Homo sapiens: one gene and its partners. The protein of the gene in region 1 purifies or fractionates together with the protein of each later gene. This does not show direct contact. Each region holds a gene or a part of one and is shown in the gene's direction. Other genes may lie near its edges.

The links.
Region 2: the proteins of RMND5B (region 1) and UCK2 purify together in Homo sapiens (affinity purification with mass spectrometry, with the first as the bait; one large-scale study listed by BioGRID). This does not show direct contact.
Region 3: the proteins of RMND5B (region 1) and SETD5 purify together in Homo sapiens (affinity purification with mass spectrometry; one large-scale study listed by BioGRID and IntAct). This does not show direct contact.

What each region holds. Positions count from the first base shown.
Region 1 is NC_000005.10:178,129,670-178,133,915, forward strand, and holds the start of RMND5B (E3 ubiquitin-protein transferase RMND5B), read left to right. Parts: upstream 1-1,344; 5' UTR 1,345-1,385; exon of another isoform or gene 1,386-1,567; 5' UTR 1,568-1,707; intron 1,708-4,246. UniProt on the Homo sapiens protein: Core component of the CTLH E3 ubiquitin-protein ligase complex that selectively accepts ubiquitin from UBE2H and mediates ubiquitination and subsequent proteasomal degradation of the transcription factor HBP1.
Region 2 is NC_000001.11:165,830,581-165,834,222, forward strand, and holds part of UCK2 (uridine-cytidine kinase 2), read left to right. Parts: intron 1-3,642. UniProt on the Homo sapiens protein: Phosphorylates uridine and cytidine to uridine monophosphate and cytidine monophosphate. Does not phosphorylate deoxyribonucleosides or purine ribonucleosides. Can use ATP or GTP as a phosphate donor.
Region 3 is NC_000003.12:9,396,084-9,400,423, forward strand, and holds the start of SETD5 (histone-lysine N-methyltransferase SETD5), read left to right. Parts: upstream 1-1,531; 5' UTR 1,532-1,894; intron 1,895-4,340.

The sequences.
Region 1 (4,246 bases):
TTTCTTTTTTTTTTTTTTGAGACGGAGTCTCGCTCTGTCGCCTAGGCTGGAGTGCAATGGCGCGATCTCGGCTCACTGCAACCTCCGCCTCTCGGGTTCAAACGATTCTCCTGCCTCAGTCTCCCGAGTAGCTAGGATCATGGGACTACAGGCGCCTGCCACCATTCCCGGCTAATTTTTGTATTTTTAGTACAGACGGGGTTTCACCATATTGGACAGGCTGGTCTCGAACTCCTGACCTTATGTTCCGCCCGCCTCAGCCTCCCAAAGTGCTGGGATTACAGGCGTGAGCCGCCCGGCCCGGAGTTTTCTATTCTTTTTTTTTGAGACGGAGTCTCGCTCTGTCGCCCAGGCTGGAGTGCAGTGGCGCCGTCTCGGCTCACTCCGAGCTCCGCCTCCCGGGTTCACGACATTCTCCTGCCTCAGCCTCCCGAGTGGCTGGGACTACAGGCGCCCCCCACCTCGCCCGGCCAATTTTTTGTATTTTTAGTAGAGACGGGGTTTCACCGTGTTAGCCAGGATGGTCTCGATCTCCTGACCTCCTGATCCGCCCGCCTCGGCCTCCCAAAGTGCTGGGATTACAGGCGTGAGCCGCCGCGCCCGGCCTGGAGTTTTCTTTTTTTTTTTAAGCATCACTTCATATTTCAAGAGCTCTCAGTTCTCCTGAGATTTCTAGGCTCTGTCCAGGATCCCTAAGCCTGTTCACAGTCCTACTTGAAGTTTCTAATCTTTCTTTTCTCATTAACCAAAACTGGAGAGAGGAAAAAGCCCATCATTTTCCCTGGACAGCAGCGCCTACTGGGAGTTTCACCCGCATTAACATGCAAACGACAGGCAAACTCCTAGTCATCCTTCCAAAGACCCTGCTCCACAGCCCTGCCGAGGCCGGTGCGCACCTAGCCCAGCCACTGCCCCTCACGGCCCCCGCGCCGCCCTCACTGAGCAGGGCGGGCAGCGCTGTAAGCGTAACCACTTGGGGCTTGGGGCTTCTGACCCGGGAGTCGGGTGCTGGGTTGAGTGCGAGGCCGACGCCTCTGCCGGGTGGGGAACCCGCCCGCCGGCGAGGAGCGGTCGCGGCCAGGGGCTTCCGCCGACTGGGAGGCCCGGGGCCGGGCCGGAGGGACTCGGAACCTGGAAACGACCAGGCGCGACCCCCAGAGGACTACAGGCGCGGCTTTTCTGGCCGCCGCCCGGTTCCCGCGGGCGACTCCACTCGGCATGCGCGGCGGGGAGCCTCGGCGGTGAGGCGCAAAGCCGCGGGCTCGTGGGACGGCCACCCCTCCGCAAAACCGCCAATGGGCGGGCCCGGGCCGCCGATCGCCCGCCGCGGCTTCCGGTTCCGATGACAGTGGCGCCGGAAGCCGGGGCCGGGGCTGCGGGGCGAGGTGAGAGCGGGCGGGCTTGGGAGCCGGCAGGTGCGGGCCGAGGGCGGGCACAGCGGCCGGCGGAGCTGAGGCGCGCGGCGGGGAAAGCTCGGCCGGCCTCCCGGGCCCCAGCCTTCTCCAGAACCCCTGCTACCCACGACTAAGCCCCGAACAATCTGCCCTTGGGCTTGTTCTCTTCGCAGTTGTCGGCCCTGGGCCGGGAGCTGGAGTCCCAGACTCATAGGTCCCGGCCCAGCCCCCGAAGAGCCGCCTCAGCCGGGGGGAGTTGCTCGGACTCAAACGTCCAGTCCTCGTGCGACCGCGCTGGGTCGGAAGTGAGCAGGTGCGCACCGGGCTCGGCAGGGCTATGGAGCAGGGTCTTTGGAAGGATGACTAGGAGTTTGCCTGTCGTTTGCATGTTAATGCGGGTGAAACTCCCAGTAGGCGCTGCTGTCCAGGGAAAATGATGGGCTTTTTCCTCCCTCCAGTTTTGGTTAATGAGAAAAGAAAGATTAGAAACTTCAAGTAGGACTGTATAGTAAAAAAAAAAAAAAAATGGAGGAGGGCGATATGACACGGTAACTGGTGTGAGGGTGGGGCGGAGGGGTCAGTATTAGATACTGTGGTCTAGCAGAGCATCTCTGAGGACGGGACATTTGCGTTGAGACCCAAATTAGGAGGCAGGCTTAGGAAGATACGGGAAGAGAGTGGTCCAGGCAGCGGGAACAGCCAGTGTGAAGGCCCTAGGGCAGAAATCAACTGAGAGTATAGTCAAGGAACAGAAAGCAAGCTAGTGTGGCTAAAGTATGGTAAGAAAGGGAAAGAGTGGTAGGAGATGAGGTCGGATAATTGGGGTTTGGTCACATAGAGTCTGTAGGTCAGAGAGAGGAATGTGGAGTTTTTTCTAAGTACAGTGGAAATCTTTTGGTTTTAAGCAGAGGAGTGACATGTAGGGTAGAGAGTGGATGGAGGTCGCGGCTGCAAAAGCATAAGAATTGGCTGGGCACGGTGGTTCACGCCCGTAATTCCAGCACTTTGGGAGGCTGAGACTGGCAGACGGCTTGAGCTCAGCACTTCAAGACCAACCTGGCCAACATGGTGAAACCCTGTCGCTCCAAAAAATTAGGCTGGGCGCAGTGGCTCACGCTTGTAACCCCAGCACTTTGGGAGGCCAAGGCGGGAGGATCACTTGAGGCCAGGAGTTCAAGACCAGCCTGGCCAACATGGTGAAACCCCGTCTCTACTAAAAATACAAAATTTAGCCGGGTGTGGTGGCAGGTGTCTGTAATTCCAGCTACTTGGGAGGCTGAGGCAGGAGAATCGCTTGAAACTGGGAAGCAAAGGTTGCAATGAGCCAAGATCGTGCCACTGTACTCCAGCCTGGGCGACAGAGTAAGACTCTGTCTCAAAAACAAACAACAAAAAAATTAGCCAGGTGTGGTGGGGAGAGAGGGGAAGAATAGGGACAAAAGGGAATACATAAATAAACACAAAGGAGAAAAGGCCCTGCATGGACCACTTACATGTGTCATGAACTCAGGAGTGTTCATGGTGGGACTACATGGTGCACCTGTAGTCCCAGCTTCTTGGGGTGGGGGGCTGAGGTGGGAGGATCACTTGAGCCCAGGAGGTCGAGGCTGCAGTGAGCCCTGATTGTACCACAGCACTCTGGCCTGGGAAACAGATTGAGACCCTGTCTCTCTCTTTTTTTTTTTTTTTTTAAGCAACCCTATTAACTGAAGAGACCCTGCCTCACAAAAAAAAAAAAAAAAAAAAAAAAGCGTTAAGAATTGGGTCAATGGAGGTTGTCTAATCTTTTTTTTTTGTTTTTGTTTGTTTGTTTGTTTTTTTGAGACAGTCTCACTCTGTCGCCCAGGCTGGAGTGCAGTGGCGCCATCTCAGCTCACTGCAACCTCTGCCTCCTGGGTTCAAGCAATTCTCCTGCCTCAGCCTCCCGAGTAGCTGGGATTACAGGCACGCACCACCACGCCCAGCTAATTTTTGTATTTTTAGTAGAGACAGGGTTTCGCCATGTTGGTCAGGCTGGTCTCAAACTCCTGACCTTGTGATCCGCCTGCCTCGGCCTCCCAAAGTGCTGGGATTACAGGCATGAGCCACCACGCCCAGCCGATGTTGTCTAATCTTTGTCAGGCAAAAGGGACCTTTATGATTTGCTCAAACTTCCTTTCTCCTTACACAGGAGCCCCTTGTTTCAGGATGCTAAATACTCCAGGATAAACCTCCATACATGCCTTTGTGGAGATTTTAATATTTCACTCATGTCTCTTTTCTACCCACTCCTACACATTTGAGCTCAGGTTCTCCAGCGCAGTTAGGAAATGGATGTGTCATTTAATCAGCAAATGTGTGTGTGTGTTTTTTTAAATTTGAGACGGAGTTTTTGCTCTTGTTGCCCAGGATGGAGTGCAATGGCGTGGTCTTGGCTCACTGCAACCTCCACCTCCTAGGTTCAAGCGATTGTCCTGCCTCAGCCTCCTGAGTAGCTGGGATTACAGGTGCCCGCCACCACGCCTCGGTAATTTTTGTATTTTTAGTAGAGACGAAGTTTCACCATGTTGGTCAGGCGGGTCTCAAACTCTTGACCTCAGGTGAGCCACCCACCTCAGCCTCCCAAAGTGCTGGGATTACAGGTGTGAGCCACTGCGCCGGCCAATCAACAATTTTTTTTTTTTTTGGAGACGGAGTCTCACGCTGTCTCCCAGGCTGGAGTGCAGTGGCACAATCTTGGCTCACTGCAAGCTCCACCTCCCGGGTTCACACCATTCTCCTGCCCCAGCCTCCCGAGTAGCTGGGACTACGGGTGCCCGCCACCACACCCGGCTAATTTTTTGTATTTTTTTAGTAGAGATGGGGTTTCACCG
Region 2 (3,642 bases), on another chromosome or scaffold:
TCCCAAAGTGCTGGGATTACAGGTGTGCGCCACCACGCCGGCAATCTTTATTTTTTGTAGAGACTAGGTCACCATGTTGCCCAAGCTTGTTTGTACATTTTTGACATACGAATGATTGATAGTTTGTCATCCTTTAAGATTATTGATATTTTTGTTATTAAAAAAGTCCAAGACTGGGCCTGGTGGCTCACACCTGTAATCCTAGCATTTTGGGAGGCAGAGACAGGAGGATTGCTTGAGCCCGGGAGTTTGAGGCCAGCCTGGGCAACATAGTGAGACCCCATCTGTATAAAATGAAAATTGTGGTGGGTCGAGAAAGTTATTTTGACCTATGTTTAAAACCAGATTCTCAGCTTGGGCAACATGGTGAGACTTGTTCTCTACAAATAATAAAATTATCCAGGTGCAGTGCTGCAGGTCTAGAGGCTGAGGTGGGAGGAATGCTTGAGTATGGGAGGTCGAGGCTGCAGTGAGCTGTGATTGTGCCACTACACTCCAGCCTGGGTGACAGAGCAAGACCTGTCTCGAACAAAAACCAAAAAAGGTTATGGCTGAGTACGGTGGCTCACACCTCTAGTCCCAGCACTTTGGGAGGCCAAGGAAGGAGGATGCCTTCAAAACCAGCCTGGGCAACAGAGAGAGACCCCGTCTCTACGAAAAATTAAAAATTAGCCATGTATGTGCCACCAGCTTCTCAGGAGGCTGAGGCAGGAGGATGGCTTGAGCCTAGGACTTGGAGGCTGCAGTGAGCTTTGATGGTGCCACTGTACTCCAGACTGGGCAACGTAGCAAGACCCCATCTCAAAAGCAAACCAAACCAGATTTTCATATTTCCCCCTAAAGGACAGGTGTAATAACACTAAAAGGTGGAAAAAAACCCAGGCTAAACTTCTTTGCCTGCATACATATCTGTGACTTTTAGGTGTCATTCTGTTTCCTTTTCATCTTTGCCTGTTCCTTGTTCTGTAACCTCTTCATTGGACAACTAAAATAGCCTCTGAAACGAGAAAAATCTGCTCCATTACACTGCCATCAGAGTGGTCTTCCTTAGGAATAGCTCTGGATGTGCCATTTTCCTTTTTGGAAACCTTGGGTAACTCCCCACTGCTCAGTACAGGTCAAACACTTCAGTACAGTACAAATCCCCTTGGCCCCTAATATGGTCCCAGGCTATTATTTTTATTTTTTATTTTATTTTTTATTGAGATGGAATCTCACTCTGTCACTCAGGCTGGAATGCAGTGGTGCCATCTTGGTTTACTGCAACCTCCACCTCCTGGGTTCAAGCAATTCTCCTGCCTCAGCCTCCTGAGTAGCTGGGATTATAGGCATGTGCCACCAGGCCTGGCTAGTTTTTTTGTATTTTTAATAGAGGTGGGGGTTTCACCATGTTGGCCGGGCTGGTCTCGAACTCCTGACCTCAGGTGATCTGCCTGCCTTGGCCTCCCGAAGCGTTGGGATTACATGCATGAGCCACCGTGCCCGGCCTTATTTTTCTACACAGCCAAATGCACACAGACCATCTTACTGAACTGTCTTCACTTACATTTTTGCTCAGTGGTCTTCTTTTTGTAATGGCCTTTAGTCTTTTTAAGGCTCAGCTCTGTTAATACTTTCTTGAGGGAGCTTTGTTACCCATTTCCTTAATGAGAATTATTTTTTCTGTCTTCTGCTTCCATAGACTTACCATATCTTTCTTGTCTTATGCTTATTTGTTGACTGCTTCTTCCCGTAGAGTATGTGTTCTGTGAGAGAATACTTTTTCTTACTTAACCTGTTTAAGTGCTTGGGATTGAGGGGAAATAAGGATTTAAGAAACCATGAAAGAAGGTCTCTGTCCTTAGCAGTTTACTGTTTATAAATTTCTTCCACTGTGTTTATTACCAAGTCACTTTATCATTAAAGCATTTGATTATCTATTCCCTTTGAAGTCAGGCATGTGTCTTCCCTACTGGTAGATGACAATGGAAGATGAGGTTAGGGGAACTTTTGACTTAGTGGTAGGACTGGGATTAGGATCTAGGGTTTTATTTTTTATTTATTTTTGGGACAGAGCCTTGCTCTGTCACCCAGGCTGGAGTGCAGGGGTGCGAACTCGGCTCACTACAACTCCTGCGATTCTCCTGCCTCAGCCTCCCAAGTAGCTGGGATTACAGGTGCCCACCACAATGTCCGGCTAATTTTTGTATTTTTAGTGGAGACGGGGTTTCACTGTGTTGGCCAGGCTGGTCTCATCTTCTGACCTCATGATCCGCCTCAGCCTCCCAAAGTGCTGAGATTACAGGCATGAGCCTCTGTGCCCGGCCGGTTTTTTTTCTTAAAATCTGTACCTGTTTTGAACTTTCTCCACAAGCAGTGGCCTCTTCGTGTAAATATTTTTAGGGAGGTTGGCCTGTGTGTGACCATTATAGGATAAGAGAGGAGATGCTGTCCCCTCTGAGGTGTGGACTGCCACCTCAGTGCAGCTTGGCCGTGAGTCAGCATCTGCTTTTGGAATGCTTCAGAATGTGCTCTGGACCCGTGTCGGCGCCCACTGCTCTGTTCTGGAACCTTGGTCGCCATCCCCATCCAGCCAGATCACGTATTCCACACCTTCCTGTCAGGTGTTCCCAGGACTGTGGGGCTGGTTTGGTCCTTTTGCTGCTTTTCTCAGAGATGGCATTGTGTGTTTTCCGTCACCTCAAACTGCTGCCATGATCTGGCCCTTCGGACCTTCTTCCCTTTCCCCCTTACTCTAGCTAGTCCAGCCAGACCCACTCTTGGCATGGCAGGCTTTCCCCCAGCCAAGGATGTCCGCATTTGCTGTCTGCTCTGCCTGAATCTCTCCTGCTTGTTCACTGAGCCATGCCTAGCACGATGTCTGGTAGAATGAAGAAGAAACCCTGGGTCCTGCTGCCTCCAGTAGTTCCTATCCTGCTGCCTTTCCTCAGGCTGTATTTCTTCTTTGTTCCTTGAGTGTCTTTGAAGTATGGTTTCTGATGCTCACTCTGTTTGTGGTCACCTACCAGTTCACTACATAGCATTTGCTTTCATGTCATTTCTTTGTCAAATCTTGCTTTTATGAGGTTCTGTGATGGAGACAGATTGTCTTTGGGAATTTCACTGCTGAAGACCTGACCTTTTTTGCTAGTGGGCTCTGTGATGGTGCTGTTGGAACTACTTAAGGTCTCTAAATCTTAGACTTGTATTTCAGTATTTTAAAATCAATAAAAAGGGGTTGAGAGTATACTTTTATATGTGAGTGTGTATGCATGTCTGTATGCTTTCGTGTCCATTAAACCATTTCAGTCATTAAGCTGATTTGTCATGAAAGCATTCGATCTTTTCATCATATATATAAAATATATAAGTATAACCCATATATAATTATGACATACAAAATAGGAATAAAAAATGAGAAAAAGGAAACATTTAGAAACATAATTTCTTTAATGGTATAAAATCTTTTGATACTAAAATATTTTTTATTTGTGACTGAAGATTGAAAGACGTTTTATTTTTAAAAATCTTGTTTAATACTTGGTGAGTCTTGGATGACCTTGGTGGTGTTAGTTTTGGTGGTCATTCAAGACTGAAGGTTTTGTTCTAAGTTTAGTCTTCTGAATTTTTATTTAATGATTATCATATTTGAAAAAGTTACCT
Region 3 (4,340 bases), on another chromosome or scaffold:
GTGAATGACTAAGCTCCATTTCCCTACCCCACCCTTATTACAATAACCTCGACACCAACTCTAGTCCGTGGGAAGATAAACTAATCGGAGTCGCCCCTCAAATCTTACAGCTGCTCACTCCCCTGCAGGGCAACGCCCAGGGACCAAGTTAGCCCCTTAAGCCTAGGCAAAAGAATCCCGCCCATAATCGAGAAGCGACTCGACATGGAGGCGATGACGAGATCACGCGAGGAGGAAAGGAGGGAGGGCTTCTTCCAGGCCCAGGGCGGTCCTTACAAGACGGGAGGCAGCAGAGAACTCCCATAAAGGTATTGCGGCACTCCCCTCCCCCTGCCCAGAAGGGTGCGGCCTTCTCTCCACCTCCTCCACCGCAGCTCCCTCAGGATTGCAGCTCGCGCCGGTTTTTGGAGAACAAGCGCCTCCCACCCACAAACCAGCCGGACCGACCCCCGCTCCTCCCCCACCCCCACGAGTGCCTGTAGCAGGTCGGGCTTGTCTCGCCCTTCAGGCGGTGGGAACCCGGGGCGGAGCCGCGGCCGCCGCCATCCAGAAGTCTCGGCCGGCAGCCCGCCCCCGCCTCCAGCGCGCGCTTCCTGCCACGTTGCGCAGGGGCGCGGGGCCAGACACTGCGGCGCTCGGCCTCGGGGAGGACCGTACCAACGCCCGCCTCCCCGCCACCCCCGCGCCCCGCGCAGTGGTTTCGCTCATGTGAGACTCGAGCCAGTAGCAAGGGCCCGGTCCCACAGCTTCGACAGCCAATCAGGTGTCGAAGACAAGCAGGCGGCGGGTAAACCGACTCCCCCGAAGGAAGGGGAGGGTGGGAGGACGCCCGCGCCAGAGCCGATTTCACTGACCCTCCCCTCCCGCCGCAGGAGGCCGGCCGCGCCCGCACACCCAGCATCTCTACACCCCACCTACCTACCCGCCCCACCCAGGGGGCAACGCGAGAGTCGCTAAGCGGCTGCGTACTCCCGACGGCGTAACTGACAGGAGCTTTACTCCAACCAGAATACGCCATTTGTGTTTTCACACACGGCGGGAGGAGAAACGGCCAATCGGCGACAAGAGGCTAGCCGGAAGCGCTCCTCCCTCTGCGAGAGCAATGGCTCCGTCCGGTTTCGAGCATTTTCCGCTCCCTTCTCCCTCCCCCTCCGGTTGCCGCAGGGCGGGCCTCCCTCCCGCCTGCATCCAGCCACCCCTTTCCCTCCCAACGTAACAAACATTATGTTCCCGACTTCCCACGGGAAAGGCAACCCCCGCAAGCCACCAGACGGCCCCCCTAGCCACCCATCCCCCCAGTGTACCGCACCTCCCCTCCCACCAGAGTTCCGCTCCCCTACCTAGCCGAGGCTCTCTGAGGAGCCGGAGCGCCGAAGCACAGCCTCTTCTCTAGGCGGCCCCGGCGGCTTCCGCTGATTGGCGGCGAGTGGGCCAATGGGTGCGGGGCGGTGGGCGGAGAGGCCAATGGCGCGGCGGGAGGGGGCGTGTCCCGGGTGCCCCTGGCGCCGGCGCTGGGAATCCCCGTGCGGTCAGTGGCGTTTCCGCTCGGGCAGCGGGCTGAGTGAGCTGCCGCCGCCGCCGCCGCCGCCGCCGCCGCCGCCGCTGCCGGGGGAGGGGCGGCCGCCGCCCGCCTGCGCTCAGAGACTCACGCAGCCCCAGTCCCGCCAGTCCGCCAACACAGTAGTGCCGGCCCCCCTCTTTCCCTGGCCCTGCCCCCCCTCCCCGCCTTTGGCTCGCTCCGCCTTTCTGCCCCCCACCCCCACCTCACGGGTACGGGCCATTCCCGGCCAGGAAACGCCGTGGCGCCGCGTTGGGCCTAACTCGAGTCCTGCCGCCTCCCGGGAGTGCCGTGCGCCGCAGCCCGGGCCCAGGCCCCGGCAGCGCCTGGGACAAGGTAAGGGTCCGACAGAAAAGAGACCGAACCTCACGATCGGGCCCCAGGGGAGGGAAGGGTCACCTCCTCCGTCTCCCCGCGCTCGCTCTCCTTGGGTCGTGGGCCTGGCCCTCCCCAAGCTCTTAGGAGGATGCTGCCACTTCTCACCCCCCTCGCCGCCTTGCACACACCGTTGCAACACCCCATTTTCCCAGGGAGAGAGATCCCCCTCTAATCTAGGCGACCCAACTCCCCCTTTCATGTTTTTCCTGGGTCAGGACGCTTCCCCTCCCCCAACGCCTCTTCACCCCCTTTCCTGGGAACTGCCTACTCCACGTTTACCTTTCCCTTGAGGAGAGGCCTCTTGCTGCCCTCCGCTCGAAATACACAGGCATACTTTTTTTCTCTCCCCGATCCCCCACTCCCTACCCCCGTTCTCGCGGCCTTGTGACAGACAACTCTGATCGCTCTGGGGGCCGCGATCTCCCCTCCGTAATCTTCCTGGACGCCTTCCCTCTCGTTTTCTGGCTTCCCACCTCAGATGGCTGCTTCCCAAAGGCATTACCTTCGCCACCCCCACCACACGTTCTCTGGCTCCCCGTGGCGTGTGCCACAGCGTGTCTGAGATAGCCTCGTTGAATGTGTAGGGTTCGAGCCTGGAGTTGAGCCAGATTGTGTCGTTTTACTTGCCTTGGGCGTGGAGAACGATCTTGTGAGAATATCTTCAAAGGCAGAAAAATATTCCCTTTATGAATTCTCTTTCCCTCTGCGTGTAAGTCGGGAATGTGAAGAGGAGTGTAGGAAAGAGCCCTGGTTCAAGTAGGTAAATCGCATGAGAGGGAAAGTTAAACTGTTGGGAAAGCCCCTTCTATGCTAATTGATTCTATAGAGTCCTTGCTTGTCTCACTTCTTGGGCGTCAGTGGTCTTTCTCTTGGATATGGATGCTGCAGTCAGCTCTGCTGGTCTGGGTCAGGGGTGCGTGTATGACCTGCATTTTCTGCTTTCTCATGTTACTTGTGCAATGTATTCACCGGTAACTCATTTCTTTCCCAGACCTCTGGGTTCCACTGGGCTTTGTCTATATTTAAGTTCATTTCTCCAGTTTCCTTCCTGCACATAGGTACTGAACGAATCCCCAAGTTCTGTGCTAATTACCTTCATCAGTTGACTAAACAAGTTTTTAGATGACATATTTGTGACCAAGGTCATATTTACATTTCTTTGTTGGACAGATGTTACATAGCTATACTTGTGATTGGGGAGGATCCAGCTGAGTGGAGTGTGCTGAGCTTTTTAGGAGAGTGTGTACTCCCTATTTGAAATTATTTTTTGGTTGTTAATTTTATATTATTAATGTTTTTAGGTCACAGAAAGTTCTAAGTGGTAATTTTAGATGTGTGGGATCTGAGCTAGGACTAAAGCAGAGAATACCCACGTAATCAGAGGTTTCTGGGCTCCATAGAGGACGTAGGGCTTTTTTTTTTCTATTGGATTTCTTCCAGTTTTCTCAGGATCATTAGTTCTCTTCTGTAGCCAAAAATTCTGGCCTGTTATGGGATTAGAGTCTTTAAGGTTTACTCAGACTGTCATTATGTGTAGAAAAATGAATTATGCCCTTTGGTAGGACATGACACAAGGCTCTGTTTCTAGCTGCAAATTTAAATTAGATTGTAGAGTGCTTGGGAAATTGGCTTTCAAAAGACCAAAGCTTAATCTTCACTCCTAAACTGCTGGCTTAATTAAAATGGATATTTAGAATTTGGTAAATGTTGATTTTTCTAATAAAAGGCCTTGGTTTAAAAGGGTGACCTTAGGATTGTTTCTTTCTTAAAAGCATAATTCCAGCCCTTCTGGCATGGAGCACTGGTCCAAAAAAAAAAAAAAAAAGTGTGTGTAAGGAGTGGGGGTGGGGTAAAGAGAAGGTTGTTCCTTTGGGTTGGATCACAGGGGTGAGTATACAAGGCAGCAGCAGCTGCTGGCTCTGGAGCTCTGGTTGCTACGTGAGAAGCTTGAGTAGTGCTGGCTGCTGTCTCCAGGGAAGGACAGCAGTGCAGCGTCCATTAATGCTGCTGGCTGCAGGGAGCAGCACTTAGGCGATGGCTGCTTCAGGACTAAGAAGAAACCTTGCTTTTCTGGGAATTTTCACTGCTGAGCTGGTTTGCTTTTTATTGGTGGGGAGATGGGAATTAGTAATTCATAATCTCCTACCCATTTATGGATATTGGCATCTGGAAACTGGATCATGGTTAAAGCCTTTCTTTTTTTGTTTGTTTGATTTGATTTTTGTTTTTTGGCAGATTTTTGTTTTTTATCTAGACATTTGTGCTTGGATAGGACTAAAAGTTCCATTAGAGTTTTAATTTTTCAATCAGTTTAAAAACCCAAGTAATAATTTTAAGAATCTTTCTGATAACCACAATAGGAAGAAAATAACAGGAATTTTTTCCTGCAGCTCACATATCATGC